Linked DNA regions of Homo sapiens: regions 1, 3 and 4 are each linked to region 2. Evidence: fine-mapped expression QTL. A gene starts in region 2. Each other region holds a variant in brackets. All regions are shown on one strand. Distances are from middle to middle.

Region 1 (8,111 bases), 280 kb before region 2:
GGATATTATCCAGGAGAACTTCCCCAGTCTAGCAAGGCAGCCCAATGTTCAGATTCAGGAAATACAGACAACACCACAAAGATACTCCTCGAGAAGAGCAACTCCAAGACACATAATTGTCAGATTCACCAAAGTTGAAATGAAGGAAAAAATGTTAAGGGCAGCCAGAGAGAAAGGTCGGGTTACCCTCAAAGGGAAGCCCATCAGACTAACAGCGGATCTCTTGGCAGAAACCCTACAAGCCAGAAGAGAGTGGGGACCAATATTCAACATTCTTAAAGAAAAGAATTTTCAACCCAGAATTTCATATCCAGCCAAACTAAGCTTCATAAGTGAAGGAGAAATAAAATACTTTACAGACAAGCAAATGCTGAGAGATTTTGTCACCACCAGGCCTGCCTTACAAGAGCTCCTGAAGGAAGCACTAAACATGGAAAGGAATAATCAGTACCAGCCGCTGCAAAATCATGCCAAAATGTAAAGACCATCGAGACTAGGAAGAAACTGCATCAACTAATGAGCAAAATCACCAGCTAACATCATAATGACAGGATCAAATTCACACATAACAATATTAACTTTAAATGTAAATGGACTAAATGCTCCAATTAAAAGACACAGACTGGCAAATTGGATAAAGAGTCAAGACGCATCAGTGTGCTGTATTCAGGAAACCCATCTCACATGCAGAGACACATATAGGCTCAAAATAAAAGGATGGAGGAAGATCTACCAAGCCAGTGGAAAACAAAAAAAGGCAGGGGTTGCAATCCACGTCTCTGATAAAACAGACTTTAAACCAACAAAGATCAAAAGAGACAAGGCCATTACATAATGGTAAAGGGATCAATTCAACAAGAAGAGCTAACTATCCTAAATATATATGCACCCAATACAGGAGCACTAAGATTCATAAAGCAAGTCCTGAGTGACCTACAAAGAGACTTAGACTCCCACACATTAATAATGGGAGACTTTAACACCCCACTGTCAACATTAGACAGATCAACGAGACAGAAAGTCAACAAGGATACCCAGGAATTGAACTCAGCTCTGCACCAAGCGGACCTAATAGACATCTGCAGAACTCTCCACCCCAAATCAACAGAATATACATTTTTTTCAGCACCACACCACACCTATTCCAAAATTGACCACATACTGGGAAGTAAAGCTCTCCTCAGCAAATGTAAAAGAACAGAAATTATAACAAACTATCTCTCAGACCACAGTGCAATCAAACTAGAACTCAGGATTAAGAATCTCACTCAAAACTGCTCAACTACATGGAAACTGAACAACCTGCTCCTGAATGACTACTGGGTACATAACGAAATGAAGGCAGAAATAAAGATGTTCTTTCAAACCAACGAGAACAAAGACACAACATACCAGAATCTCTGGGACGCATTCAAAGCAATGTGTAGAGGGAAATTTATAGCACTAAATGCCCACAAGAGAAAGCAGGAAAGATCCAAAATTGACACCCTAACATCACAATTAAAAGAACTAGAAAAGCAAGAGCAAACACATTCAAAAGCTAGCAGAAGGCAAGAAATAACTAAAATCAGAGCAGAACTGAAGGAAATAGAGACACAAAAAACCCTTCAAAAAATTAATGAATCCAGGAGCTGGTTTTTTGAAAGGATCAACAAAATTGATAGACCACTAGCAAGACTAATAAAGAAAAAAGAGAGAAGAATCAAATAGATGCAATAAAAAATGATAAAGGGGATATCACCACGGATCCCACAGAAATACAAACTACCATCAGGGAATACTACAAACACCTCTACGCAAATAAACTAGAAAATCTAGAAGAAATGGATAAATTCCTGGACACACACACTCTCCCAAGACTAAACCAGGAAGAAGTTGAATCTCTGAATAGACCAATAACAGGAGCTGAAATTGTGGCAATAATCAATAGCTTACCAACCAAAAAGACTCCAGGACCAGATGGATTCACAGCCGAATTCTACCAGAGGTACAAGGAGGAACTGGTACCATTCCTTCTGAAACTATTCCAATCAATAGAAAAAGAGGGAATCCTCCCTAACTCATTTTATGAGGCCAGCATCATTCTGATACCAAAGCCGGGCAGAGACACAACCAAAAAAGAGAATTTTAGACCAATATCCTTGATGAACATTGATGCAAAAATCCTCAATAAAATACTGGCAAAACGAATCCAGCAGCACATCAAAAAGCTTATCCACCATGAACAAGTGGGCTTCATCCCTGGGATGCAAGGCTGGTTCAATATACGCAAATCAATAAATGTAATGCAGCATATAAACAGAGCCAAAGACAAAAACCACGTGAGTATCTCAATAGATGCAGAAAAAGCCTTTGACAAAATTCAACAACCCTTCATGCTAAAAACTCTCAATAAATTAGGTATTGATGGGACGTATTTCAAAATAATAAGAGCTATCTATGACAAACCCACAGCCAATATCATACTGAATGGGCAAAAACTGGAAGCATTCCCTTTGAAAACTGGCACAAGACAGGGATGCCCTCTCTCACCACTCCTATTCAACATAGTGTTGGAAGTTCTGGCCAGGGCAATTAGGCAGGAGAAGGAAATAAAGGGTATTCAATTAGGAAAAGAGGAAGTCAAATTGTCCCTGTTTGCAGACGACATGATTGTATATCTAGAAAACCCCATTGTCTCAGCCCAAAATCTCCTTAAGCTGATAAGCAACTTCAGCGAAGTCTCAGGATACAAAATCAATGTACAAAAATCACAAGCATTCTTATACACCAACAACAGACAAACAGAGAGCCAAATCATGAGTGAACTCCCATTCACAATTGCTTCAAAGAGAATAAAATACCTAGGAATCCAACTTACAAGGGATGTGAAGGACCTCTTCAAGGAGAACTACAAACCACTTCTCGAGGAAATAAAAGAGGATACAAACAAATGGAAGAACATTCCATGCTCATGGGTAGGAAGAATCAATATCATGAAAATGGCCATACTGCCCAAGGTAATTTACAGATTCAATGCCATCCCCATCAAGCTACCGATGACTTTCTTCACAGAATTGGAAAAAACTACTTTAAAGTTCATATGGAACCAAAAAAGAGCCCGCATCGCCAAGTCAATCCTAAGCCAAAAGAACAAAGCTGGAGGCATCACACTACCTGACTTCAAACTATACTACAAGGCTACAGTAACCAAAACAGCATGGTACTGGTACCAAAACAGAGATATAGATCAATGGAACAGAACAGAGCCCTCAGAAATAACGCCGCATATCTACAACTATCTGATCTTTGACAAACCTGAGAAAAACAAGCAATGGGGAAAGAACTCCCTATTTAATAAATGGTGCTGGGAAAACTGGCTAGCCATATGTAGAAAGCTGAAACTGGATCCCTTCCTTACATCTTATACAAAAATCAATTCAACATGGATTAAAGACTTAAATGTTAGACCTAAAACCATAAAAACCCTAGAAAAAAACGTAGGCATTACCATTCAGGACATAGGCATGGGCAAGGACTTCATGTCCAGAACACCAAAAGCAATGGCAACAAAAGACAAAATTGACAAATGGGATCTAATTAAACTGAAGAGCTTCTGCACAGCAAAAGAAACTACCATCAGAGTGAACAGGCAACCTACAAAATGGGAGAAAATTTTCGCAACCTACTCATCTGACAAAGGGCTAATATCCAGAATCTACAATGAACTCAAACAAATTTACAAGAAAAAAAACAAACAACCCCATCAAAAAGTGGGCGAAGGACATGAACAGACACTTCTCAAAAGAAGACATTTATGCAGCCAAAAAACACATGAAAAAATGCTCATCATCACTGGCCATCAGAGAAATGCACATCAAAACCACAATGAGATACCATCTCACACCAGTTAGAATGGCAATCATTAAAAAGTCAGGAAACAACAGGTGCTGGAGAGGATGTGGAGAAATAGGAACACTTTTACACTGTTGGTGGGACTGTAAACTAGTTCAACCATTGTGGAAGTCAGTGTGGCGATTCCTCAGGGATCTAGAACTGGAAATACCATTTGACCCAGCCATCCCATTACTGTGTGTATACCCAAAGGACTATAAATCATGCTGCTATAAAGACACATGCACACGTATGTTTATTGCGGCATTATTCACAATAGCAAAGACTTGGAACCAACCCAAATGTCCAACAATGATAGACTGGATTAAGAAAATGTGGCACATATACACCATGGAATACTATGCAGTCATCAAAAATGATGAGTTCATGTCCTTTGTAGGGAAATGGATGAAATTGGAAATCATCATTCTCAGTAAACTATCTTAAGAACAAAAAACCAAACACCGCATATTCTCACTCATAGGTGGGAATTGAACAATGACAACACATGGACACAGGAAGGGGAATATCACACTCTGGGGACTGTTGTGGGGTGGGGGGAGTGGGGAGGGATAGCATCGGGA[G/A]ATATACCTAATGCTAGATGACGAGTTAGTGGGTGCAGCGCACCAGCATGGCACATGTATACATATGTAACTAACCTGCACAATGTGCACATGTACCCTAAAACTTAAAGTATAATAAAAATAAATAAATAAATAAATTACAAGTAGCATAAACTAAGATGGATGTGTAGATAGATACATAGGCCCCTTGTTATGTTTTCTTATCTTTCAGAACAAAAAAGTAGACAAGTTTCCTAGTCAAGATATTCCTTAGCTACAGCAGTCACAGGAAAATTATAGCACATGTTACCTCTAATCATATATCTGTCTATAGAATGATTCATCCTGCATGTTTCTAACAGAGCGATCATTGCTCAGCACAACCCTGCTCATTTAATTACTCCTCAGAATCCTCAAGTGGCTCTCAATACTTCCAAAATACAAGTCAAATCAGGTTTGCCTGTCTTCCAAACTCCTCAACAATTCAACTCTCAGCCATCTTTCATTTTGAAACACAGGTTGTTTTGGTAGAATTTACATAAAATAAAATTTACTCTTTTTGATGTATAATTCTATGAGTTTTACTAACGTATATAGTCATGTGACTACAAATAAAATCAATATATAGAACATTTTCATCACCTGAAAATGTAACCTTCTGCCTCTTTGTAGGCATTCATCTCCCTCAGTCCTAGCCAGTGGCAACCACTGACTTATTTCTTGTCCTTCAACTTGACTCCTAGAAACTCATGTAAACGGAATCATAAAGGATATAGCCTTTTAAGTACGTATTGTTTCACTAACTTAATGTATTTGAGATTTATCCATATTGTTGCTTATTTAGTAGGTTGAGCCTTTCACTTTTTATTGCTATCATTCCATTATATGGATAGGCCAAAGTTTGTTTAACCATTTGTCCATTGAGAGATATTTATGTGGGGATTTGCTGACAAGATGGCCAAATAGGAAAAGTTCCAGTCTGCAGCTCCCAGCGAGATCGACGCAGAAGGTGGGTGATTCCTGCATTTCCAACTGAGGTAAGCAGTTCATCTCATTGGGACTGGTTGGAGAGTGGGTACAGCCCGTGGAGGGCAAGCCAAAGCAGGATGGGGCATCACCTCACCCAGGAAGCACAAGGGTTGGGGGAATTATCTCCCCGACCCAAGGAAAGCAGTGAGGCACTGCACCATGAGGAATGGTGTGCTCTGGCCCAGGTACTGCACTTTTCCCATGGTCTACACAACCCACAGATCAGGAGATTCCTTCTGGTGCCTAAGCCACCAGAGCCCTGGATTTCAAGCACAAAACTGGGTGGTTGTTTGGGCAGATACCAAACTAGCTTCAGGAGTTTTTTTTCAATACCCCAGTGGCGCCTGGAACACCAGTGAGACAGAATCGTTCACTCCCCTGGAAAGGGGGCTGAAGCCAGGGAGCCAAGTGGTCTGGCTCGGGGGATCCCACCCCCATGGAGGCCAGCAAGCTTGGATGCACTGGCTGGAAGTTCTCGCTGCCAGCACAGCAGTTTGAGGTTGACCTGGGATGCTCAAGCTTGGTGTGGGGAGGGGCCTCTGCCAATGCTGAGACTTGAGTAAGTGGTTTTACCCTTACAGAGTGAACAAAGCTGCAGGGAAGTTCAAGCTGGGCAGAGCCCACCGCAGCTCAGCAAGGCCATGGTGGCCAGACTGCCTCTCCAGATCCCTCCTCTCTGGGCAGGGCATGTCTGAAATAAAGGCAGCAGCCCCAGCTGCTTATAGATAAAACCTCCATATCCCAGGGACAATGCACCTAGGGGAAGGGGCAGCTGTGGGCGCAGCTTCAGCAGACTTAAACATTCCTGCCTGACAGCTCTGAAGAGAGCAGCAGATCTCCCAGCACAGAGTTTCAGCTCTGCTAAGGGTAAGACTTCCCCATCAAGTGAGTCCCTGACCCCTATGTATCCTGACTGGGAGACACCTCGCAGTAGGGGCTGACATACACCTCATACAGGAGAGCTCTGGCTAGCATCTGGCAGGTGCCCCTCTGGGACGAAGCTTCCAGAGGAAGGAACAGGCAGCAATCTTTGCTGTTCTGCAGCCTCCACTGGTGATTCTCAGGAAACAGGGTCTGGAGTGGACCTCCAGCAAACTCCAGCAGATCTGTAGCAGAGGGGCCTGTTAGAAGGAAAACTGACAAACAGGGATAGCATCAATATCAACAAAAAGGACGTCCACTCAGAGACCCCATCTGAAAGTCACCAACATCAAAGACCAAAGGTAGATAAATCCACTAAGATAGTGAGAAACCAGTGCAAAAAGGCTGAAAATTCCAAAAGCCAGAACACCTCATCTCCTCCAAAGGATCACAACTTCTGGCCAGCAAGGGAACAAAACTGGATGGAGAATGAGTTTGACAAATTGACAGAAGTAGGTTTCAGAAGGTGGGTGATAACAAACTCCTCCGAGCTAAAGGAGCATGTTTAACCCAATGCAAGGAAGCTAAGAACCTGGAAAAAAGGTTAGACAAATTGCTAACTAGAATAACCAGTTTAGAGAAGAACATAAATGACCTGATCGAGCTGAAACACAGCATTAAAACATCCTGATGCATAAACAAGTATCAATAGCTGAATCAATCAAGCAGAAGAAAGCATCTCAGACATTGAAGATCAACTTAATGAAATAAAGTGAGAAGACAATATTAAAGAAAAAAGAATAAAAAGGAATGAACAAAGCCTCCAAGAAATATGGGACTATGTGGAAAAAAACTAAATCCACATTTAATTGTTGTACCTGAAAGTGACGGGGAGAATGGAATCAAATTGGAAAACACTCTTAAGGATATTATCCAGGAGAACTTCACCAACCTAGCAAGGCAGGCCAACATTCAAATTCAGAAAATACAGAGAACACCACAAAGATACTCCTCAAGAAGAGCAACCCCAAGACACATAATTGTCAGATTCACCAAGATTGAAATGAAGGAAAAATTATTAAGGGCAGCCAGAGAGAAAGGTCGGGTTACCCACAAAGGAAAGCCCCTCAGACTAACAGGAGATCTCTCAGCAGAAAACTTACAAGCCAGAAGAGAGTGGGTGCCAATATTCAACATTGTTAAAGAAAAGATTTTCAACCCAGAATTTCATATCCAGCCAAACTAAGCTTCATAAGTGAGGGAGAAATAAAATCCTTTACAAACAAGCAAATGCTGAAAGATTTTGTCACCACCAGGCCTGCCTTACCAGAGCTCCTGGAGGAAGCACTAAACATGCAAAGGAACAACTGGTACCAGTCACTGCGAAAACATACCAAATTATAAAGACCGTCGACATTATGAAAAAACTGCATCAATTAACATGTAAAATAACCAGCTAGTGTCATAATGACAGGTTCAAATTCCCAAATAACAATATTAACCTTAAATGTAAATGGCTTAAATGTCCCAATTAAAAGACATAGACCGGCAAACTGGATAAAGAGTCAAGACCCATCAGTGTGCTGTATTAAGGAGATCCAGCTCATATGCAAAGACACACATAGGCTCAAAATACAGGGATAGAAAAAGATTTACCAAACGAATGGAAAGCAAAAAAAAAGCTACGGTTGTATTCTTAGTCTCTGGTAAAACAGACTTTAAACCAACAAAGATCAAAAGAGAAAAAGAAGGGCATTACATATTGGTAAAGGGACCAATGCAGCA
Region 2 (8,111 bases):
AGCTGTGTCTTGCGGTTTTGATTGGCATTTTTAAAATAATGATGTTGAGCATCATTTTAATGGGCTTAAATGTCATTTGGATATCTTTGCTAAAAATGTTCATTTTTTTTTCATTTTCTAATGGGTTGCTTATTTTTTTGTTATTGAGGTGTAAAAATTTCTTAATGATATATTTCAAAAATCAGTCTTTTTAAATTTAATGAAGTCCAATATTTCTATTTATTCTTTATGTTCTGTGTTTTTATGTGTGTGTATGCACATGAGTTTTAAGAAATCTTTGCTTAATCCTAGGACTCATACATTTTCTTTCAGAAGTTTTTTTTTTTTTCAACTTTTATTTTAAGTTCGGGGTACATGTGCAGGATACGCAGGTTTTACGTAGGTAAACGAGTGCCATGGTGGTTTACTGCACAGATCATCACATCACCTGGGTATTAAGCCCAACATTCATTAGCTATTCTTCCTGATACTCTCCCTCCTCCCACCCGCCACGATGGGTACCAAGATGTGTGTTGTTCCCCCTCCATGTGTCCATGTGTTCTCATCATGCAGCTCCCACTTATAAGTGAGAATATGTGGTGTTTGGTTTTCTTCCAGAAAATTTAATGCTGTACCTTTAAGTGTGTGACCTATTTCACGTTAGCTTTTTGTGTGTGGTACGAGGTAAGGATTAAGGTTAACTTTTTTACAAATGAATATTCATTTGTTCAAGCACCATTTCTTGAATTATGATGCCTTTATCATTGAATTACCTGATAACTCTGTCTAAAATCCATTCACCTAAAATCGGCACATATCCATTAGCACAATATCCATTGAATTACCTGATACCTTTGTCTAAAATCCACTGTATATGTGCTGATCTGTTTTTGAACACTTAATTATGTTTTGTTGACCTATCCTGCCAACATCACACCGTCTTTATCGCTCTATTACTAGTAGTAAATTGTAAAAATCACAGGATATGTCTGCCAACTTTGTTTATCATTCGATTTTACTTTCTTGGTTAATTTTATTGCTACATAAATTTTAGCCTCATTTGATGATTGCTACAAGAAAATCTCCTGATATTTTCACTGAGATTATTTTAAAGCTAAAAACCTATTGGGAGATAATTGACTTCTTAAAAATATTGAGTGTTTTTGACCCATGAATGTGGCATATTTCTTTACTTATTTAGGTCTTAATTAATTTTCCTTAGTAATTCTGTGTAGCCTGTAGTGTACAGACCTTGTTTTAGATCCTTGATACCCACACCTCCTCCCCCAGTGTTTAAAAATTAATAAAATGAGAAGATATCAGCAAAGGGATCTGAGAAGGAGCAGGTAGTAAACGAGAAGAAAATTTAAGAAATTAAGCAAAAGCAATGCTTAAAGGAGGAGTACTTGGTAAACTGTATTACTTGTGAGTGATACATCAAGTAAAATTAGGACTAAGTTGACCATTGCATTATTCTATGCGTAATTTAATATTGACTATGACCAGAAACACTTATGTGGAACAGTGGGGACAAAAGACTAATCAAAGCAGATTCAAGATAAAATGAGAAAAGATGAATGGAGACAGTAAGTACAGAGAATTCCTTCAAGGTGTTTTACTATAAACAGAAGCAAGGAAATGCAGTAGTAGACAGAGGAAGACGGTATGTTAAAGGGGTGCTGATTTTTAAAATGGGCCAACTAGCAGCAAATCTCTTTGTTGTGATGCTACAGAAGGTAGGGAGAGTTGATGATTCCACAGAGAGAGACAAGTGGGTAGAATGGTCCCTTGAGTAGAAGACTATCTAAAGCACAGGTGGATGGCTTGGTCTAAGGAGGGAGCACGGTTCACCTCAAGTAACAAGATGAAGGGAGAGTCTGTGGTCACAGGGGCCAAGTATGTGACTAGATGTAGTGACAGGAGCTTATTGAAGTTTTCTTCTGGTTCTTATTCCTTTTTGGGTAAAATAGAAAGCAAAGCAATCAGCTGTCCTTGAATATGAGTCAGACTGTTGGAGATTTGAGTAAAGGGATATTCTTTAAGCTTGAATGAATTTCTTTCCACAAAAAAAAAATAAAGCCTACTACATAATGATTATTTTTCTTAAAACTCTGCAGAAAAAGTCATCTTGGCATTTTTACAAATAAAATATATTTTTATTCCTACAGAGCAAGAAATACTTCTATTTTTTTTAAAAAAAAAAAAAAGAGGCAATAAAAACAGATATTCTTTCTATAAAATTATTAGTCTAGTTTGCCTTCTTATGAATTGGGAGAAACAATAGGGTAGCCCATTTTGAGTTTACCTTGTGTTAGGAAGCATCATCTCCTTTCTAAAGCCTCTTATAATGTTGGTTAGACCCTGTGAAGAAATCCATAGGACATAGTCATAAAATGTAGTCATAGAAACCTTCTTGCTCATCAGATGAAAGTAAACTGAGGCCAAGAAATATCTTTTGACTTATTTCCATTTGATTTGGGGATTTCATTTTCTCAGTATCCACTTACTTTAAGATGCTAAGAGTATAATTTCTTTGTATGCCAACATGAAAATAAGTCCAAACTATCATTCTTTTCTCATGTTATAGTTATGTTTGTATGCACTAGAGTCTCAGTGTGCATGTATGTGTAATTCCTATTCCTTAGTTTTCATCCTTCAAGCAGTTAGTCCCTTCAAAACCCGATGACAAGACCCAAACATATTAAAAAGTTTAGTTGGAGGGCCCAGGGTGAAACACAAAAACAATTCTTCTTCTTACAGAGCTCTTAGGCAAACACATAGACACTTGTTCTCTGCCTCTGGAATTACAAATATGTTACTCGGAAAGCAGCAATACTCTTTTGGACTTGTTTGACTTCACTTTCTTTACCTGTCTTTAAGAAGCCTCATACACACATTTAAAAAATACAACTTATAAAGGTTTTAGTGATAGTGCATACAATCATTTGATTTTATTTCCCTTTTCTCTTCACCTTCACTAATAGGAGTTACTGGCATGCTTCAAAAAGCTTACATTTGAATACTGTCTAAATCAGTGCAGACCCTTGACCAGCTTAATCTTTGCTTGCAAATGACAATGCAGTGAAACCAGAGGAAGAAAAAAATTACTTCCTTTCCTGTTGGAAACCTAATAAGTAGTTAGTCTGACCCAGTTTTCAATAAGAGAGATTTTCTGATGACCCGACAGGAGTGACTATCTCCAGTCAAAGAAAGAGGAGGGTGAATTTAATCTTTCATGGCCCTGGAATGGCAGCTGCTCTCAGCTCTCTCTGATTCTGTGAAGGTTGATGAAGATAGAGCTGGCTTTCAATGTAGAAAGAATTTTCCTTTTGAATATTCCAAACGAGAGCTTTGCACATGTGCCTCAAGAACTGATTGTCTGGCTCCGACAGGAATGCAGCAGGAGAGGAGCGTATTTCATGCTTAAGACCAGAGAAGAGCCACGCAATACTCAGTGGATAAAAGGCTTGCAGTCCCAGCTGGGAAAAAGAGTCCCATTATCTCCCAGCTGCATAGACATTCCATACGGCTTGGTTCTGCCTGGACGCACAGCATGCCTGGCTGAGAGCTTGAAACAGAGTTCTGCAGAAAAACTGTAAAGATCCCGAGACATTTCCCTGGTAAGATCTGTAAGTACAAAATTGTGCTGTGTCTGCTGCAATGAGAATATTGCTGGGCAAGCTGCAGCTTTTCTTCCTTTCAATGTCTTTGTATTAGCATAACAGGTAAAAGCTGGGGTTGGGGGAGAAGTCACTGCTTTATTGATGCTGTGTTTCTATGATGCTGATGTTTAAAATGCATTTATTCCTTGTGTGGGAGAAATGTATTGAATCTGTATTCCGGGAGGTTAGGATCAAACCAGGGAAAGAAAGACTACAGGTATATTTCTCAGTGTTTCACTAGTCTTTGCTGCAGTAAAACTAATGGGCAAGACGGGATGACAGTGCTAATTCTGGGACTTTCAGATGGCTACACGCCCTTTCTGTAACGGCAGATGGGAAAATGTGATCGCTAAATGTTTTTTGTCTTTTTTTTTTTTTTAATCAAAGGGATGAGGGGTGGGGTTTGCAGTTCTCACCGGATGATTTAAAAGAATGGTTATAAAGTTTCCTAGGGGAGAATTTGGTAAGGGGAGCAAAGCAAGACTGGAGGTCATATGGGCTCACCAAATTTTGTCTGGCATTTTGCTTTATACCCAGCTTCTAGATAACAGCCTCTGGAGTTTCCTTTACCATTTACACCAGTTAAGTTGTCAGTATTAAGGTTCTTATAATACTTTATGAAAACTTTCAGAAGTTGATGACTTGGGAACAAAACTTTTAAGAGCTCTGAGATTAGCCACGTATAACCCATTATGTTAATGGGATACTGTAACATTGGGGTTTGGGGGGAAAATTGGAATTCATAGTTTTTGCTTCTCCAAATGAAAACTACTTATGTTTAAATAATCAGCATCCTGACTATGTCCTCTGAGAAACATTCACAGAATGACTAAATAGAAGTTATACTGAGAAAAAATAGAGTGAACAGTAGAATCACACAGAATCAATTTGGAAAATGAGGTATTCATAATTTTATCTACAGTGGCAATGTTTTCTGAAGATGTCTGTAAAAGAAGAAGCATATGCTGAATATTGAATTGCTTGTTTTGAGCAATTTTCATTTATCTGATGGGTTTATCATCTTTTTATTTTTGTTGTTGAAGGTTTCACCAATTTATGTGCATTGTATTTTATAAGGAAAGAAATGTTTAAGCAGACTCTTTTTCCCTCCTCCTTCACACACATGTGTAAACATACGCATGTTCACAAAACAAACATAAACATACAAAAATACTTACACAATTTGTGTAAAAAAAAAGAAATACAGAAGCATTTCATCTTTGATGTTTCAGTGGGGTTTCTTTTTCTTTTTTTAAGCAATAATCATGGCTGTGCAGTCCAAAGATTTCAAATATATAAATGTGGAAACTTTTATATAAAGCTTTATGTGAGGTTATATAAATGCATAACTTATCACATCTTAGCAAAAAAGTCAATCATTTATAAATGACTTCATTGCATTACTTCCTTTGAATATTTGTAGTGAAGGACCAGAATTTTTTTTTAGAATTTTTATGTAGCTTTCCTTAATGAAAACAAATTCACTTGTTTACTTAGAAAAGGATCACATATTTTCTCTGAGTTTAGAACCCCCTCTAAAAAAAATCAATTATGTTGTGAAAAGGATGTGTGGTATATTAAATTGATTGCATACTTCTGGGTTTTTTTTTTAGTAAGTAAAAATGCTCAGTAGTATAATAGTAAATTTGTACCTTTTAAATTCTTTTATGTGAGGAGAAGGAATACAAAATATTTGCTTATTTATTCACTGTTTATTTTAATAACATATTAATTGGAATGCAGAAGTATAAGTTCTACCTATTAAAAATGACTCAAACTATACATAAAAGTTCAAAAGGGAAAACCCATCACCTGTAAATAACAATCATGAAATTTGGCGACTATCATTGGAGACATACTGGTGCCTAAATTCAGATAAGATGAGAGATAAATACTTTTGTAAGAATGGTTTCTTACTATACACCTTTTAAAAAATAAATAATAAATATTTAGATAATATAGTCAATAATAGATACTCTTCTGTAAGAATGAGATCTTATCCTACACTTAAAAAAAAACAGAAATATTGGCCGCGCGCGGTGGTTCACACCTATAATCCCAGCACTTTGGGAGGCCGAGGCGGGCGGATCACGAGGTCAAGAGATTGAGACCATCCTGGCCAACATGGTGAAACCCCATTTCTACTAAAAATACAAAAATTAGCTGGGCGTTTTGGCGTGTGCCTGTAGTCACAGCTACTCAGGAAGCTGAGGCAGGAGAATCACTTGACCCCGGGAGGCGGAGCTTGCAGTGAGCAGAGATCGCGCCATTGCCCTCCAGCCTGGGTGACAGAGTGAAACTCCATCTCAAACAAACAAACAAACAAACAGAAAACAGAAAACAGAAACATTGAGTTTAATTTTTGATTTTAGATTTTAATTAAACTGAAAAAAGAGAAGTTGAAACAACATTGAAGAAATTGTTAAATTTCATGTATAGATTTCTCTCCAATGGAGATATTATGTCCAGAATAATACCCTTACAGTTAAGACCAAAAATTTTGAAAATAGAAATAGTTTGAAGATTTTTTTGGATGCACGTTTAAATAGTAAACAAACTTTTATAACCCTTGTTATGATAGTTAAATGCATTTGCAATGTGACTTGTCATCAACTCCACCCATACCACCTCAATTTAAACTACATCAGTTTTACATTACTGAGTACATACATTCTGGCTGAATTCCCATGGTCTCAGTTTAAACTTATTTCAAATTTGTAAGGAATTATCCTTTATCAACAGGCTTTTACTACCCAATTCACCATTTCTGTGTTCTTTATTTTCAATTATTTTTTGGGTTGTTAGATTTCAGTAAGTAGTACCTCTCCACCAAAGAAATAGTCATAGGTGCTATATTTTCTATGAGTTTGCATCTTGAACATGTATTTCTTTTGCCTTAGACATGCAAGATACGTTATCTTTCTTGGATCAAGCTTAATTTTTTCTTTTGGAAATGTGTAAATGTTTAAACATTTTTGGAGACCCTTCCTGTACTGAAAGTTGTTTTGCAACATTTTTAGGTCTGTCTGCAATTTCCGTCATTGAATGTGACTTGCTTTTTTTCTGATAAATGCCTACATGATTCTTTTGTTGTGTGTGTGTGTGTGAGTGTGTGTATGGGTGTTTGCTTTTACAGAATATTCCTGGATTTGTTCCATTTTCATTAACTTTTTTTGAGGTTTGCCCCATTAATTTAAGATTCTTTTATTTTAGGATTTGTTGTACTATTTCTTTTTTGTCCCTTAACTGGGCGTGGCCAAATTGTGGTTATCTTGCTTCTTTCTTTTCTTCAGGATCACCAATTTTGTACATGTTGTATCTCATTTGTCTACTTTCCACATCTTTCATATCCAAATTTCTTTTCAATTTTAATTGACAAATTGGTTATCTTCTTTATTTGAGAACCACTTGTTCTCTTGTTTGCCACTTGAATGAATAGTATAGCTTGCAATAAACCTATTAAGGCACAACCTTCTGTATTGTGATCTTGTAAATACATGTTTCCTTCTCTTAACACTCTAGCAATTTCCTCAGCTGGCAGGTTTTTGGGCAATCTGTATCCTCCTGAAAGTAAGAGAAAAAGAAAGTACTGATCGGTTTTCTCTGATGTCCCCCAAAGGTCCATGATTTTTAGTATTTGGCTACAGTGGAAATGGGCTTCAAGTCGTGTTTTGGGGTTTTGTCCACTAACATTTTCACTGAAGACGGAGGGTTTTTGCTTCGTTTTTTATCTGCACCACGACCACTGCCACCTTTTATATTTCTCTTTATTGTTTCTGTGGGACAATAGAGGACATTTAAAAATCTCTTTATTTAAGGAGTTTTAAATAGCAATCTTTCAGTTTGGAGGAATTCTTTGAATGAAAATTTTATTAGAATGTTGTTATTCTCAGTATTCATATTGAAAAGAGCTGTTCTAGTTAAGACTGAGTTCATCTGCATGATGTGTTGTAGTATTAAACATTTATTACGGTAAAGGCGTAACACAGGACATAGTAGAGGAAAAACAGAGCCATTGGGCATGCCTTCTGATAATGTCCCCTATTAGTTTATATTGATGAAGTCTGTGGCCTACTTAACTATTTTGCAATGAGTCCTAAGGTAATTTACAGAAACGTTACATCATAGTAACATGAATCAAAATCTGTAGACTCAAATCCTTTTTGAAAGTATACTGAGTAGAAAACTTATATGTATTAGGTTTACAATTAAATGAATAAATGAATGAATAAATAACTGAATTTCCCTATATTTCAAATCCTTAAAAGAGGCAATAAAAGAACATGATGTGTCGTATGAAGTATTATAAAAAACGAATGATCTTACTAAAAAGCAAATAGCAATTTCTCAGTGTCAATAAAATGATAGTGAGAGCAAGATTCAGGAGGCAAGCTCTTGAGCTGAAGTGCCGCCCATTGTAGATTTCCTTCCCTATATCTAGCACAGAATAGCTCTGTGGTCTTAGGCAAG
Region 3 (8,111 bases), 150 kb after region 2:
ATAAGCAATGTTACAATGGATTTAATATTCTCAATTTGTCTTAATGAAATAACAGCATAACCACCAATTGTTATCATATCAAGGAGAAAACTTTGTCTTTGCTTTTAAAAATAATTCAGATCTTAAACAAATAGACTGTAAGCAGTTGCGTGGTTAAATTATAGCAAGCCACTGTTATATTTATATTTAAAATCAACAGGGAAGTAGATTATTCAATGCTTTAGCCTCATTTTTTCCCACACTATCGCTGCTGGAAATCTATTTATGTGTCTTATCAGAAATGGTACTTTTTCAAAATTCAGGCCTTCTCCCACTGCCTACTTCTACTTATATTCAGCAGGAGCTAGTCTTTTTAGTTCATTTGAATAAAATTGTGCAGGCTAAGAGTTGGGATGGGAGAGGAAAATATAAGAAAGTAGGGGATCCATTCTATCAAAACTGGGAGTTTCTGATTTACAAAACTGAGACAGATGCACAAGCTGAAATGCTTGTTTATTACTCATGTTATTTGACAAACTGTTTCAAGGAATTTATGAACATAGCACATAGAGATTTTGCTTCTAAGATTTATAAAATTGGTTCAAATTACAGTGACATTTTTTGCATTAAAGGATCAAATATTTCTATTGTTTATTTATATATAAATAAATATATAATACATATAAAGAGCATTTATAAGTAATAATGTGTATATAATTATCTGAATTTATATCCAATATTGTCTAAAAAGTAAATCAGATTCAGGTGTTTAAATAGCAAATACAGGAGAGAAGATGGCGGATAAGCAGCAAGACTAGCTTGCAGCTCCTGCTGGGAGGGATAGAGCAGCATGTGGAGACTCACATCATACTTTGCCCCAGAAACTACCCCAGGAACATACCAGGAAAGCCGAGAGAATCCACAAACCCTTTGAAAGAACTGGATCACCGCTGCAGGCTCCCTGAGATGCAGAAAAACTGTGAGTCGGCTTGCTTTCTCAATAGGGAGGCTGGTGGTCTGGGGCAGGTTCTCAGCCCTGGTCACTAGCTGTCTGGAAATAGACTCAGTGCTGCTGGGGGCGGGTGGGGCATGGTGGGAGTGAGACTGGCCTTTAGGACTCACGCTGTGTGGGGGTGGGGTGAGGCCTGTGACTGCGTTTTCCCTCACTTCCCTGGTGAACTGTATGACTCAGCAGAGGCAGCCATAATCCCCCTGGGAATATAACTCCATCGGACTGGGAACTGTACCCCCATCCCTCACAGCAGCTGCAGCAAGCCCCACCCAAGGAGAGGCTGAGCTCAGACACACCTTATCCCTATCCCAGTCTGGTGGTCTTTCTCTATGTGTCCTGGTAGCCAAAGACAAAAGTCATAATGTCTTGAAAGCTCTATCGCCCTGCCCACCACCTGAGAAACCTGAATACTTTTGCATCCTCCGTATAGGACCACAGCTGATGCACTCCCGAAGCGCCATCTCCTGACTGGAGGCCAACCAACACAAAACCAGCGCTAAACAAAAACGCAACCAAGGACCCTCACAGAGTTCACTTCACTCCCCTACTACCTCCACCAGAGCAGGTGGTGGTATCCACAGCTGCAAGACCTAAAGATGGATCACATTACAGGACTCTGCAGACACTCCTCAGTATCAATCAGAGCCTGGTAGCTCCACTGGGTGCCAGATCCAGAAAAGCAAAGCAATCACTACAGTTCAGTTCTCAGGAAGCCCCATTCCTAGGGGAAGCGGGAGAACACCGAAACAAGGGAGCACCCCATGGGACAAAAGACTCTGAAGAGCAGCCCTTGAATCCCAGATATTCCCTCTGACATAATGTACCCGAATGAGAAGAAACCAGAGAGACAATAATGATAATATGACAAAATAAGGTTCTTCAACTCCCCCAAAAGATTATGCCAGCTCACCTGCAATGGATCCAAGCCAAGATGAAACTTCTGAATTGCCAGGAAAATAATTCAGAAGGTTAATTATTAAGCTAATCAAGAAGGCACCAGAGACCAGGCGCGGTGGCTCACGCCTGTAATCCCAGCACTTTGGGAGGCTGAGGCGGGTGGATCACAAGGTCAGGAGATCAAGACCATCCTGGCTAACATGGTGAAACCCTGTCTCTACTAAAAAATACATAAAATTAGCCAAGCGTGGTGGTGGGCGCCTGTAGTGCCAGCTACTTGGAAGGCTGAGGTAGGAGAATGGCGTGAACCTGGGAGGCAGAGCTTGCAGTGAGCTGTGATCACGCCACTGCACTCCAGCCTGGGCAACAGTGCGAGACTCTGTTTCAAAAAGAAAAAAAAAGAAGCCACCAAAAAAAGGTGAAGTCCAGCTTAAAGAAATTAAAAACATTATACAGAAAATTAAAGGAAAATTCTTCAGTGAAATAGATAGTATAAATAAAAAACAATCACAAGTTCTGGAAATCTAGGACACAGAGTAATGTAAAATGCATTGGAAAGTCTAAGCAATAGAATCAAACAAGCAGAAGAAAGAACTTCAGAGCTCTAAGACAAGGCTTTCAAATTAACCCAGTCCATCAAAGACAAACAATAATAATAATAATAATTCTTAAAAAATGAGCAAAGCTTCCAAGAAGTTTGAGACTACATTAAATACCCAAACCTAAGAATAATTGGTGTTCCCGAGGAAGAAGAGAAATCTAACAATTTGGAAAATATGTCTGAGAGAATAATCCAGGAAAACTTCCTCAGCTTTGCTAGAGATCTAGACATCCAAATACAAGAAGCTCAAAGAACATATGGGAAATTCATCACAAAAAGATAATCACCTAGGCATATAGTCATTAGGTTATCTAAAGTTGAGACAAAGGAAAGACTCTTAATAGCTATGAGACAAAAGCATCAGGTAACCTATAAAGGAAAACCTATCAGATTAACAGAAGATTTCTTAGCAGGAACCCTACAAGCTAAAAGGGATTGGGATTCTATTTTTAGCCTCCTTAAACAAAACAACTATTAGTCAAGAATTTTGTATCCAGTTAAAGTAAGCTTCATAAATGAAGGAAAGACACAGTCTTTTCCAGACAAATAAATGCTGGGAGAATTTGCCACTACCAAGCCAACACAAGAACAGCTAAAAAGAGCTCTAAATCTGAAACAAATCTTCAAAATACACAAAAATAGAACCTCCTTGAAGCACACATCTCACAGAACCTATATAACAATAACACAATGTTTAAAAAAAAAGAAAAGAAAACAGAAAACAAAACAAAAAAAAACCACAAGGTATTCAGGCAACAAAATAGCACGGTGAATAGAATAGTACCTCACATCTCAATACTAACATAGAAAGTGAATGGCCTAAATGCTTCACTTAAAAAATACGGAATGGCAGAATAAACGAGAATTCTCCAATAAAGTCTCTGCTGTCTTCACGAGACTCAACTAACACAGAAGAACTCAAATTTACTTATAGTAAAGGGGTGGAAAAAGATATTCCGTGCAAATGGACACCAAAAGCAAGCAGGAGTAGCTATTCTTCTATCAGACAAAACATACTTCAAAGCAACAGCAGTTTAAACAAACAAAGAGGGACATTATATAATGATAAAAGGATTAGTCCAACAGGAAAATATCACAGTTCTAAATATATATGCACCTAACACTGGTGCTCCCAAATTTATAAAACAATTACTACTATACCTAAGAAATGAGATAGATGGCAACACAATAATAGTGGAGGACTTTAACACTCCACTGACAGCACTAGACAAGTCATCAAGACAGAAAGTCAACAAAGAAACAATGGACTTAAACTATATTCTAGAACAAATGAACTTAACAGATATTTACAGAAAATTCTATCCAACAACTGCAGAATACACATTCTATTCATCAGCACATGGAACATTCTCCAACATAGACCATACGATAGGCCACAAAATAAGTCTCAGGAAATTTAAGAAAATCGAAATTATATCAAGTACTCTCTCAGACCACAGTGAAATAAAATTGGAAATCAACTCCAAAAGGATCCTTCAAAACCAGGCAAATACATGGAAATTAAATAATCTGCTCCTGAATGATCAAACAAAAAGCTGCCTCTTTGAAAAGATAAATAAAATTGATAGACTGTTAGTGAGATTAACCAAGAAAAGAAGAGAGAAGATCCAAATAAACTCTATTAGAAATGAAGCGGGAGATATTACAACTGATATCACAGAAATACAAAAGATTATTGAAGGCTACTATGAACACCTTCACATGCATAAACTAGAAAACCTAGAGGAGATGGATAAATTCCTGGAAATATACAACTCTCCTAGATTAAACCAGTAAGATATAGAACTGGAACAAGATAGGGATGCCCACTTTCACTCCTTCTATTCAACATAGTACTGGAAGTCCTAGCCAGAGCATTCAGAAAAGAGAAAGAAATAAAGCGTGTCCAAATTGATAAAAAAGAAGTCAAACTGTCTCTGTTTGCTGACGTTACGATTGTATACCTAAAAAGCCCTAAAGATTCATCCAAAAATCTTCTGGAACTGGTAAATGAATTCACCAAAGTTTCCAGATACAAAATTAAAGTACACAAATCGGTAGCTCTGCTGCCTACCAACAGTGACCAAGCTGAAAATCAAATCAAGAACTCCACCCCTTTCACAATA[T/C]CTGCAAAAACAAACAAACAAACACTTAGGAATATATCTAATCAAGGATGTGAAAGACCTCTACAAGGAAAACTATGAAACACTGCTGAAAGAAATCATAGATGACACAAACAAATAGAAACACATCCCATGCTCATGGTTGGGGAGAATCAATATTGTGAAAATGACCACACTGCCAAAAGCAATCTACAAAGTCAGTGCAATTCCCATCAAGATAGCACCATCATTCTTCTCAGAACTAGCAAAAACAATCCTAAAATTTACATGGAACCAAAAAAGAGCCCACACAGCCAAAGCAAGACTAAGCAAAAAGAACACACTGGGAGGCATCACGTTACCTGACTTCACCTTTTTCTCTGAGGCCATAGTCACCAAAGCAACATGGTACTGTTACAAAAATAGGCACATAGACCAATGGAACAGAATAGAGAACCCAGAAATAAAGCCAAAAACTTGCAGTCAACTGATCCTCAACAAAGCAAACAAAAATATGCAGTGTGGAAAGGACATCCTATTCAACAAATGGTGCTGGGATCATTGAAAAGCCCAGTGTAGAAGAATGAAACTGGATCCTCATCTCTCACCTTAAAAAAAATCAACTCAAGATATATCAAAGACTAAATATAAGACCTGAAACCATAAAGATAATGGAAAATAACATTGGAACAACACTTCCAGACATTGGCTTAGGCAAAGATTTCATGACCAAGAACACAAAGCAAACACAACAAAAACAAAGATAAATACATGGGACTTAATTAAACTAAAAAGCTTCTGCACAGCCAAAGAAATAATCATGAGAGTTTACAGACAACCCACAGAGTGGGAAAAGATCTTCACAATCTATTTATCCAACGAATGACTGATATCGAGAATCTACAAGGAACTCAAACAAATCAGCAAGAAAAAAACAAACAATCCCATTAAAAAGTGGGCTAAGGACATGAATAGACAATTCTCAAAGAAGATATACAAATGGCAAGCAAGCACAAATGGGAAAATGCTTAACATTGCCAATTATCAGAAAAATGTAAATCAAAACCACAATGCAATACGACCTCCCTCCTGCAAGAATTGCCATAATCAAAAACTCAAAAAATAATAGACATTGGCATGGATGTGGTGAAAAGGGAACAGTTTTACACTGTTGGTGGGAATGTAAACTAGTACAATCACTATGGAAAACAGTGTTGGAGATTCCTTAAAGGACTAAAAGTAGATCTACCGTTTGATCCAGCAATCCCACTACTTGGTGTCTACCCAGAGGAAAAGAAGTTATTATACTAAAAAAAAAAAAAGAAAAAAAAGAAAAAAATTTCATGTGTGTCCGTGTGAAGAGACCACCAAACAGACTTTGTGTGAGCAACATGGCTGTTTATTTCACATGGGTGAAATAAACCCATGCACCTTCACGTGGGTGCAGGCGGGCTGAGTCTGAAAAGAGAGTCAGTGAAGGGAGATAGGGGTGGGGCTGTTTTATAGGATTTGGGAAGGTGATGGAAAATTACAGTCAAAGGGGGTTGTTCTCTGGTGGGCATGGGTGGATCTCACAAAGTACATTCTCAAGGGTGGGGAGAATTACAAAGAACCTTCTTAAGGGTGGGGGAGACTACAAAGTACCTTCTTAAGGGTGGGGGAGATTACAAAGTACATTGATCAGTTAGGATGGGGCAGGAACAAATCACAATGGTGGAATGTCATCAGTTAAGGCTGTTTTTACTTCTTTTGTGGATCTTCAGTTACTTCAGGCCATCTGGATGTATACGTGCAAGTTACAGGGGATGCGATGGCCTGGCCTGGGCTCAGAGGCCTGACATTCCTGCCTTCTTATATTAATAAGACAAATAAAACAAAATAGTGTTGAAGTGTTGGGGTGGTGAAAATTTTTGGGGGTGGTATGGAGAGAGAACGGGCGATGTTTCTCAGGGCTGCTTCAAGCGGGATTAGGGGCAGTGTGGGAACCTAGAGTGGGAGAGACTAAGCTGAAGGGAGGTCTTGTGGTGAGGGGTGATATTGTGCGGATGTTAGAAGAAACATTTGTCGTATAGAATGATTGGTGATGGCCTGGATATGGTTTTGGATGAATTGAGAAGCTAAACGGAAGATACAAGGTCCGAATTAAAAGGAGGAGAAAAATGGGTATTAAAGGACTAAGAATTGGGAGGACCCAGGACATCCAATTAGAGAGTGCCCAAGGGGGTTCAGCATAATTACTTGCTTGGTTGGCAAGTTTTTGGGCTCTATCCTTGAGTTTTTTTATGTTGTCATACACCAGGCCAGATTGATTTAGGTAAAAACAACACTCCTCATTTAAGAATATGCAGAGTCCTCCTTTTTCAGCAGTAAGTCAGTCAAGGCCTCGGCGGTTTTGGAGGACAACTGCAGCTAAAGAGTCAACTTGGGCCTGGAGGACTGATAAAGTTTGTGATTTTGAAGGCCTCTAAAAGTATTAAAGCAGCAGCAGCCGCTGCACGCAGACATGAGGGCTAGGCTAAAACAGTAAGGTCAAGTTGTTTGGACAGAAAGGCTACAGGGTGTGGTCCTGGCTCTTGTGTAAGAATTCCGACCATGCTAACCATGCCTAGGAAGGAAAGGAGTTGTTGTTTTGTAGAAGGTGCTGGGGTTTGAGAGATCAGTCGGACACGATTGGCAGGGAAAGCACGTGTGTTTTTATGAGAATTATGCTGAGATAGGTAACAGATGAGGAAGAAATTTGGGCTTGATTGAAGTAATGGGGGCTGTCTGTGAAGCTTTGCAGCAGTACAGCCTTGGTAATTTGCTGAGCCTAATGGGTGTCAGGGTCAGTCTAAGTGAAAGCAAAGAGAGGCTGGGACGAGGGGTGCAGGGGAATAGTGAAAAAAGCATCTTTAAGATGGAGAACAGAATAGTGAGTTGTGGAGGAATGGATTGAGGACAAAAGAGTGTAGGGGTTGGGCACCACAGGGTGGATGGCAAAACAATTTGGTTGATAAGGCGCAGATCCTGAACTAATCTGTAAGACTTGTCCGGTTTTTGGACAGGTAAAATGGGGGAATTGTAAGGAGAGTTTATAGGTTTTAGAAGCCCATGCTGTAGCAGGCAAGTGATAACAGGCTTTAATCCTTTGAAAGCGTGCTGTGGGATGGGATATGGGCGTTGAGCGGGGTAAGGGTGATTAGATTTTAACGGGATGGTAATGGGCATGTGATCAGTTGCCAGGGAAGGAGTAGAGATGTCCCATACTTGTGGGTTAAGGTGGGGGGATATGAGAGGAAGACGCGAAGGAGGCTTTGGGTTGGGGAGAAGGGCGGCAATGAGACACAGCTGTAATCCAGGAATAGTCAGGGAAGCAGATAATTTGGTTAAAATATCTCGGCCTAATAAGGGAACTGGGCAGGTGGGGATAACTAAAAAAGAGTCCATAAAAGAGTGCTGTCCAAGTTGGTACCAGAGTGGGGGAGTTTTCAGGGGTTTTGAAGCCTGGCCGTCAATACCCACAACAGTTATGGAGGCAAGG
Region 4 (8,111 bases), 220 kb before region 2:
ACAACTTTGCACTGAACCCTTTACTAGTCACTTACACTTCTCTTGACTTGAATATTCTGCTTATTTATCAGTGTAATGGTTTTTATCCAAATAAAGTAAAACAATAGAATTCAGGCCAATTAGCCTTTATATCCTTGTTGAAAATATTTAATATTACAAATAATTTTGTTTTTATTTAGTCCTCTTTAAATTTGTCTTTCACTGTATAAGACAGGCAATATATTCATGTTTATCATGTCAAAAAACTGAATCAAATGTTAAAGTGCTTTAAGAAAGCAACAGTATGAAAGCTGATCAAGCCCACTGTGGTCTGCATCTTCTTTATATGATATACTGCCTTTCAGAATTTTGGAGATGTTATTAAAAAATCAAATTTTTGAGGTCATTGATGGCATAGCATGTATTACATTCTTTATCTCTTCAGTTACTAGAACTAAAACACTAGATCGATTTTATATGTATGTATGAATTGATAATCTCAAATTTTTACATTTTTAATTTAAATATTTACATGTTTAAATTTTCATCTCTTTTCTGCTTTTTTTCCCAAAATATATTGTGTTCCTTAGTTCTATGTTTATATTTAGGAATGAATAATTGAACAAACTAATTTAGGCAGCTTGAGTGGATGTCCTCTTCACATACTTGCCTCTACCCCAGAACATGAGAAGTAACTGTCAGTAATTATTGGCAAGTATTAGTTTTCAGAGATGTGAGCAAGGAATGGACATGCCCTATCTCCAGCCTACGTGTATCCTCAATTAAAAATGATTTGGATTCTGTTCCATGTCTCCATGCCCACTCTTGGATCCCCAATTTTGGGCAGACAGATCGATCAATTTCTTTAGAATATATTAATCTGGACTCAGCATGAAAGAAAATACCCCATTGCAAATATGGCTTGGAAGGCAGAATAGTTTATCTAATTTATATACCCATCTTCTCAAATCTGAGATCTCTGTAAATACCAACTTCCAAGGACTCTTTTGTGAAGAGCAGCTTTCTCCTTCACTGACTCCTTTTTCTGCTAAGTCTATGAGCATTTCAGTTCATTCCTAAATGTGATATCATTTGCCTTCCTACTGCAAGGAATGTCTTTGTCTCCTGGTATCTTCCTTTTCTCCTATTCTTAATAGATTTATGAATTATTCTCTATTTTAATGTCTTGTGGTTACGGGAATCTCATGGAAGTTGACACATTTCTCAATATGTGTTATATGTTGGATCCCATCACATTGCTCAATTTGCATTTCATAATTGTGTCTTTGGTACTTGTTCATCTTCATTGTGTTCCTAGCAAGCAAAACCATCCCCTTAGCCTAACATCACTGTAACATAAATAAGCACTCCCCTAGTTTCTATGCATCCCCAAAATAAATTCAGCTTCATGTAAATATGACTATTGATAAAGATGTCCACTTATTGAATACACTTATCAAAAGATTTTTCTGGTGTAACATGGATATAATTTCTGTCTTAAGAACTCTAATTCTAAAGAAACCTGTGTATGGATTTCACCTTTAGGCCTTAGTTTAAACTTATTTAAATTTGTCTTCATAGATCTTACCCTCTCAAGCTATTCTGTTTTATGACAAAGACCAACACTAAGGTTTTTTATATTTATATATGTGAACTGAAATAACGTTCTAAAATATTTTAAATCCTACAAATTAGTTTCTTTCATTAAACAGAATCCTTTCTTTGTGTTGGACATTAATTCAGTGTTAATGTGAATATAATTGTCATGGATTAATATTAAATATTTGCCAATATCTCCCTTTACAACAGGATTTTTTATTAAAGTGTGTGGATGTCTTTTTTTCTTTATAATGTCTTAAAAAGAAGAAAACTTTGGTCATACTATAAAAGTTGAGTCTGATAATGTTTTATTATCTGGGAAACCATTTAAAAATAGTTTCATTGTTATTAAAATGACATCTGGGTTACATGTGAATAATTATTAAAATAATTATAGAACAACATGCATTTGTGAGGAATAATACAAAGAGATTCTGTATACACTTTGCCCAGCTTCCCCCAATGACAATATTTTGTTAAACTATAGTGTAATATCATGACAATAATATTGACATTTTACAGTCCGTCCAACTTACTCAGGTTACCCCAGTTTGGCTTGGACTCATTTGTGTGTGTATGTGCACATGTACATGTATAAATTCTATAGATTTTTATTAATGTGTAGGTTTATGTATCTACCATCACAGTCAAGACACTGAGAAGTTCCATCACCACAGGAATTCCCTATGCTACCGTTTGACAACCATGAGAAAGCATTTTTAATATATCTATTTTTACATTTGGGAAGGGTCAAAAGTCCTTTCATTAGCCCAGCTCCTGTCCAGATAATTTAAATTAATGATGTCTGTGTTCTTGTATGGATGGCATCACTGCTTGAAATATAGATCTCCAGGGTGCTCCTGCTCTCACTCTTTCTGAGCCATGATCTATTGCATGTCTGTACATCATCAAAGCAAATTGCTTCTTCAATGATGTGTAAGTATAATACATCATCACAATGGGACATGGTGATAATGCATTACCCAGAAAAAGATGACTGTCATATTTGACAGACAAGGTCAAGGAGCAAATTCAGGCAGCCCCAGCACATTTCATCAGCAGCATTCTTGGTATAGAAGAAAGTTTGTTTGCTTAGAATGATCCACTTGAAATGTGGACAAGGCTAAATACATACGTATGCCCTGGGTTGATTCCTTTGGTAAATTAAAAACGAGGTGGTTGAGCTTCCATTAAAATGACATCTGGATGACATGTGAATAGTTTTTCTGTCCACAGGGTGTTTTGAATCATGTGTGTTTCTTACTCATTCAGCATCAAATTGTTTTCCAGAGAAAGCTCTTCAACAAGATTGCAAAGTCCTTCAGGGTAGTAACTGTCTTATACATCCTTTGTTTCTTTCACAGTGTCTAAAGCATTGCTGAGCACATGGAAGACACTCAATAAATACTCGTTTAATGGAATTGAATTTGTAAGCACCAGAGACTCATGCTTCCTTTTCACATAGCTTGACACTTGGCTGCCCAGGATCCTTGCATGCAA[G/A]GTGGTAAGGTTACTGTGGGAAAATTCTGTTGGCTTACTATCCCATTTGCTGTCTGCTCTTTCTTTGTTTCTTCCTCCTTTTTTTTTTTTTTTTTTTTTTTTTTTGTAGAGTCTTTCAGCCAGGAGCTATTTTTATAAAGAATTTCATTTTTTGCTCATGAGGATTAAACTTTTAAGTTTGGCTTCAGGGTGTGAGAGAAGTACAACTTATGAAGGTTGCTCTGCACTGCAAAAAGGATAGGATTTGAGGAAGGGATGTTTCTGACATTGGCACAGCAGTATTCCGTTCTCCCCCATCCCCCAGTTGCTGCCAAATTGGCCTTTCTTTAAAGCATACAGTATTTATTTCTCTAGTCCTTGGATCATAGCAATTTTATTTCAATGTCACCAGTGAAGGAGAGAAAGGCAATATTTTGTCCAAGAGTGGGATTTGAAAATGAGTCCTCTGAGGATATGTTAGAGCAACCTAAGTATTAGATGCTGGAAAAATGGATCATTTCTTGATATTTCGGTAGGACACATCTCCATTTCAAATATATGCATGCTACAATGCAGTGAATACATAGTGCATTTTAGTCAGCTCTAAAAGTAACCAAGCCAAATTTTATACAATTGATACAGACAATGGGTGTTCAAGTGGGAATACATGTTACTGGCTCTCTGCCGGCATGATGAAATAGAGGAGGCAAATAGATACAGCTCACGTGCCAATTCTGGTTGCTCAGTCACAGTTATATCAATATCATGTTGATAAAAGTTATAAATCAGGGATCAATTTGCAACATCTACCAGGGGCCCAAGTAGAAACATGTGGTATGCATGACAGTTATGAATCAACCCTGGTGGAGGAAAAAGATGGAGAGTCATGGACCATACGCCTAACAAAGTAATTGTACCTGGTCCAATTTTGGACCATGAGTAAACCATTTAATAAAAATATATCATAGAATTGTTTTGAGATTACATTTTAAGTTGCATAAGCTATAATGTTTGTTATGATTATGCTAATTGTATATATCATTAGAGAAAATAATCACTAAATATTTTGAAACAAAAGAAACAATGAATTTAAGTAATAAATATAATCCCACTCAGCCAGAGACGACAAGTTATTGATACTCTTGTAGATACATTTATTATATAAAAACAAATATATTATGTGATTTATATTTTATCTTACATATTATTTTAATATCGATATTTTTCTCTCATAATACACCTTTAATATATTTCAATTTCAAAAGATAATTTCTGAAAAACTGTTTTTATATTTGCATGGTAGTTAATTATATGGCTATACATAATTTTTTTAAACAAACACCTATATTTTTACATTGAAGAAGGATCTAAATTTTGTATATGAATCATACTCATATTAAATATTTTTGCAATAAAAATGTTTCTACTTCTTTAGTAAAATCCCAAAGGCTGATATATTGGATCAAATGTTCTACAGATTTAATGGGATTTATTCAGTACTTAAAAGGAATTGTATTAAATTAAACTGCACAAAGTCTGTGCCAAATTATGCACCTGCAAACAAATGTATCTGATTAGAAGGCAGTGCAGTAAGTTCTTTTAAAAGGCTTGTTTTTTAAAAAATGAATTAGCTCCAAAACTATTTATATATTAAGGAACAATTTGAGCATGACACAAATTTCTTGTTTGCCTATGTGTTACCTCATCTTTGAGAAACACTAGGCGGATGCACAAAATGGCACCTGGCAGAACAAAGCCATGTAGCAATACATAAAATGTAAGCATAAACAAACCTCAAACATCCAACAGCTACTTCAGCTCAGCACAGGTGTGATGAGACCACCCATCTATATCTGGTGTTACAGCTTTCTGTCTGATTTCAGATAATTCTTATTTCACCACTTTGCAATTCCTCCCAAGCTGAAACCCTTTCAATACTCACTTCCACAAGCAAACCTTAGTTTTTCTTCAAAAAGGAAGTGTCATATTTCTTTTATGAAACTATATATTTCTTTACCACTTAATATGGATAAAAGTATGCTACTATTTTTATTAGGTTCCTATGATTTTCTTCTGTGTATGTCACTGAAAAAGTTTTTGACTATTGTTTCCCAACACCAGTCTCCCCATAAGCCATGTAATTTTTTTTTCATAAATTTGCATCGCAAGGTGAATTTTAGGAATACATCATATAACGGAGCTGATTCTTTATGTGTGTATACTTTCTGAAAGATTCCCTATGTGAGATAAGAAAAATAAAAAGCGTTTTCCTTGCTCTCATATTCAATTCAAATTTATGAACCAGATGTATTGGTTCCCCGTGACACACAACAAGCAGCTAATTCTCTAACAGATACCAACTGGGTATACTATAACTTAGCTCAATTTTGACACTATCTACCTAGAATTATTATCAGATGCTACAGGTTAAGCACTCAGTCTCATAGGACTAACCTCAATTTAAAATGCCAATTGCAAGCCTGGGGTTTTGACCTGTGCTTCTGAGTGATTGGCTATAAATCTGAGTTCCCATCACCCCTTCCTCAGATTCAGCTAATTTGCTAGAGAAGCTCAAAGAACTTAGGGAAACACTTTACTTAGTTTACCCATTCACTATAAAATACATTACAAAGAATATAGATGAACAAGACAGATGAACAGGTGCATTTTTAAAAGAGCCAGGGCAACGTATGAAAGCTATTTACCCACCCTCCCAGGCACCTCCAGGGAACCCCGACTTTTGGATTTTTTATAGAGGCAACATTACATAGACGCCATTGATTATATCATTTGTCCTTGGTGATCAACTCAAACATCACTCCCTCTCTCTTCCCTGGAGGGTTGGGGTGGGGCTGACAACTCCAACTCTAATTATGCCTTGGTCCTTCTGGTGACCAGCCCAGTCCTGAAGCTATCTAAGGGTCCCAAACCACCAATCATCTCATTAATATGCAAAGACACATCACTCTAGAAATTCCAAGGGTTTTCAGAGCTGTGTGACAGGAACCAGGGTCAGAGAGCAAATGGATAGTTCTTATTATATCATAATATCACACTCCAATAAGTCAACACTTGCCTCATTCAAGACTGATTCTAATAAAGAATGATAACTATTATTTTTCACTACTTAAAGAGTCAGACCTATGTGGAAGTTGCACTAAATCCAGTTACAATTTATTCCACCACGAAGCTTGGAAGCTCTATGACCCTTAATACAATGTTAATGTGAAAGTTTTATATTGTCTGCAAACCAAAAACTATCTGAGACTGGTCTCAATTAATTTAGACATTTATTTTGCCAAAGTTAAGGACAGTGCTTGGGAGACAAGACTGTGTCTTTCTCCAAAGATGATTTTGAGGGCTTCAATATTTAAAGGGGAAAGGGCAAATGCTGGAGAGAGAGAAAGACATTTTTAAAAGCTGTGGGTAGTTAAGAGGCAAGCAGTTGCATTCTTCTGAGTCTTTGATCAGCCATTCACATGTGACAGTAGGGTAGAAAAATCGTCACTTATGCATTCATCTAGCTCAGTGAATCTACATTTTTTACATAAAATAAAATAAACTTAAGGCTGAAGAAGCAATCAGATAAGCATTTACCTCAGATGAGCGAAGTGAAGACTTTGAGTTCTGTCCTTTGTCCTGTATTTGTGAAGACAAGCTATCAATGTACATGGTCAGGGTAAAATTCAACATAACTGTCTCAGGATAAAGATCTTGGGGCCCACAAGGAATTTGCTCTTGGGAAAATTATGAGGGAGCTATGTAGCTTTTTCATGTTTTTAGCCATCTTAGAAACAAAATGGGAGGCAGGTTGCATGACGCAGTTCCCAGTTTAAATTTTCCTTTTGACTGAGGGAGTTTGGAATCCTGAGATTTATTTTCCTTTCACATATTTTGCTCAATTTATTCATGAACTGTGATTTTATTCAAAATTATTTTATTTTCAAATTCATTGCATTCAAATAATCATAAAATGTGTACCTGCATTAAATGAGGCAGTGTTGTTCTTTTTCTTCCTTCATTTACAAAAGCTTTTTTCCACTTTTTTCATTGAATAAAAAAGAAACTTAGTTATGGCTAGGATAAATAATGTAATATGTGACTATTTTGCCAGTTATGTTTCTTCTACTGTGAATAGCCTATGCCATAAATAACCCATTTTTCAAATGAGCAGGCATTTCTTCTATTATTAGTTTGCATGAGCTCTTTAAATATATCTTATGTAGCAATTTTCAGTTGGTTAGATACATGAGTTTATCCCTAGCTTTTCTAATAGCACTATTTCCAATGTTACACACACACACACACACACACACACACACACATACAGCACTCACTTATAAGTTGAGTGAACTCCAGGTAAGATAAACCAAAGAATTCCATGCCAAGAGACATTTACAAATCTTGAAGAGCCAGAGAAAACCCACACCGTACCTTTAGAGATAAATAATACAAATGGCAGTAGATTTCTTATCAGAAACCATGGAGTCCTGAAACAAGTGGCACAATGCAATGCTGAAAGAAAAGGCCTTTTAATTGAGCATCCTAGACCCAGTGAAAATGTCCTCCCAGATTGAAGGGGAAATCAAGCCATTCTCAGATGAGAAAACATTAATTTGTTATTATCAAACCTACCATAAATAATGGCTAAAGAAATTTGTTCTCTAAACAAAGGAAATGACGTTCCAAAAATCTTGGAACATCTGAAAGAAAGAAACAATACAGTAAGCAAAACTTTTGTAAATACAGTAGGATTTGTTGAGTTTTCTAAAATATGTTTGATGGTAGAAGAAAAAATTATAACTTTGATGTGGTTCTAAATGCATGCAGAGGAAATTTTTTTTTTTTTTTTGAGATGGAGTCTCACTCTGTCACACAGGCTGGAGTGCAGTGGCAGGATCTCGGCTCACTGCAAGCTCCGCCTCCCGGGTTTACACCATTCTCCTGCCTCAGCCTCCCGAGTAGCTGACACTACAGGTGCCCACCACCACGCCCAGCTAATGTTTTGTATTTTTAGTAGAGATGGGGTTTCACCATGTTAGTCAGGATGGTCT

Evidence for each region.
Region 1: its variant is fine-mapped to the expression of CNTN6 in pituitary (GTEx, PIP 0.91).
Region 3: its variant is fine-mapped to the expression of CNTN6 in lung (TOPMed, PIP above 0.99).
Region 4: its variant is fine-mapped to the expression of CNTN6 in gastroesophageal junction (GTEx, PIP above 0.99).

The regions. Positions count from the first base shown.
Region 1 is chr3:810,821-818,931 of GRCh38, forward strand. The region is part of intron 2 of LINC01266 (long intergenic non-protein coding RNA 1266); the gene reads left to right. Among named protein-coding and RNA genes, the nearest start is that of LINC01266, 220 kb to the left of the region's middle. The variant G/A (reference allele first, on the strand shown) is at 4,458.
Region 2 is chr3:1,089,522-1,097,632 of GRCh38, forward strand. CNTN6 (contactin 6) reads left to right here and starts at 3,503. Exons shown (of 23, transcript NM_001289080.2): 1 at 3,503-3,599.
Region 3 is chr3:1,234,807-1,242,917 of GRCh38, forward strand. All of the region lies in intron 4 of CNTN6 (contactin 6), which reads left to right. Among named protein-coding and RNA genes, the nearest start is that of CNTN6, 150 kb to the left of the region's middle. RefSeq lists an enhancer at 695-1,894. The variant T/C (reference allele first, on the strand shown) is at 4,616.
Region 4 is chr3:867,017-875,127 of GRCh38, forward strand. LOC107986058 (a long non-coding RNA gene) reads left to right here. Exons shown (of 3, transcript XR_001740584.1): 3 at 2,943-3,145. Among named protein-coding and RNA genes, the nearest start is that of CNTN6, 220 kb to the right of the region's middle. The variant G/A (reference allele first, on the strand shown) is at 3,079.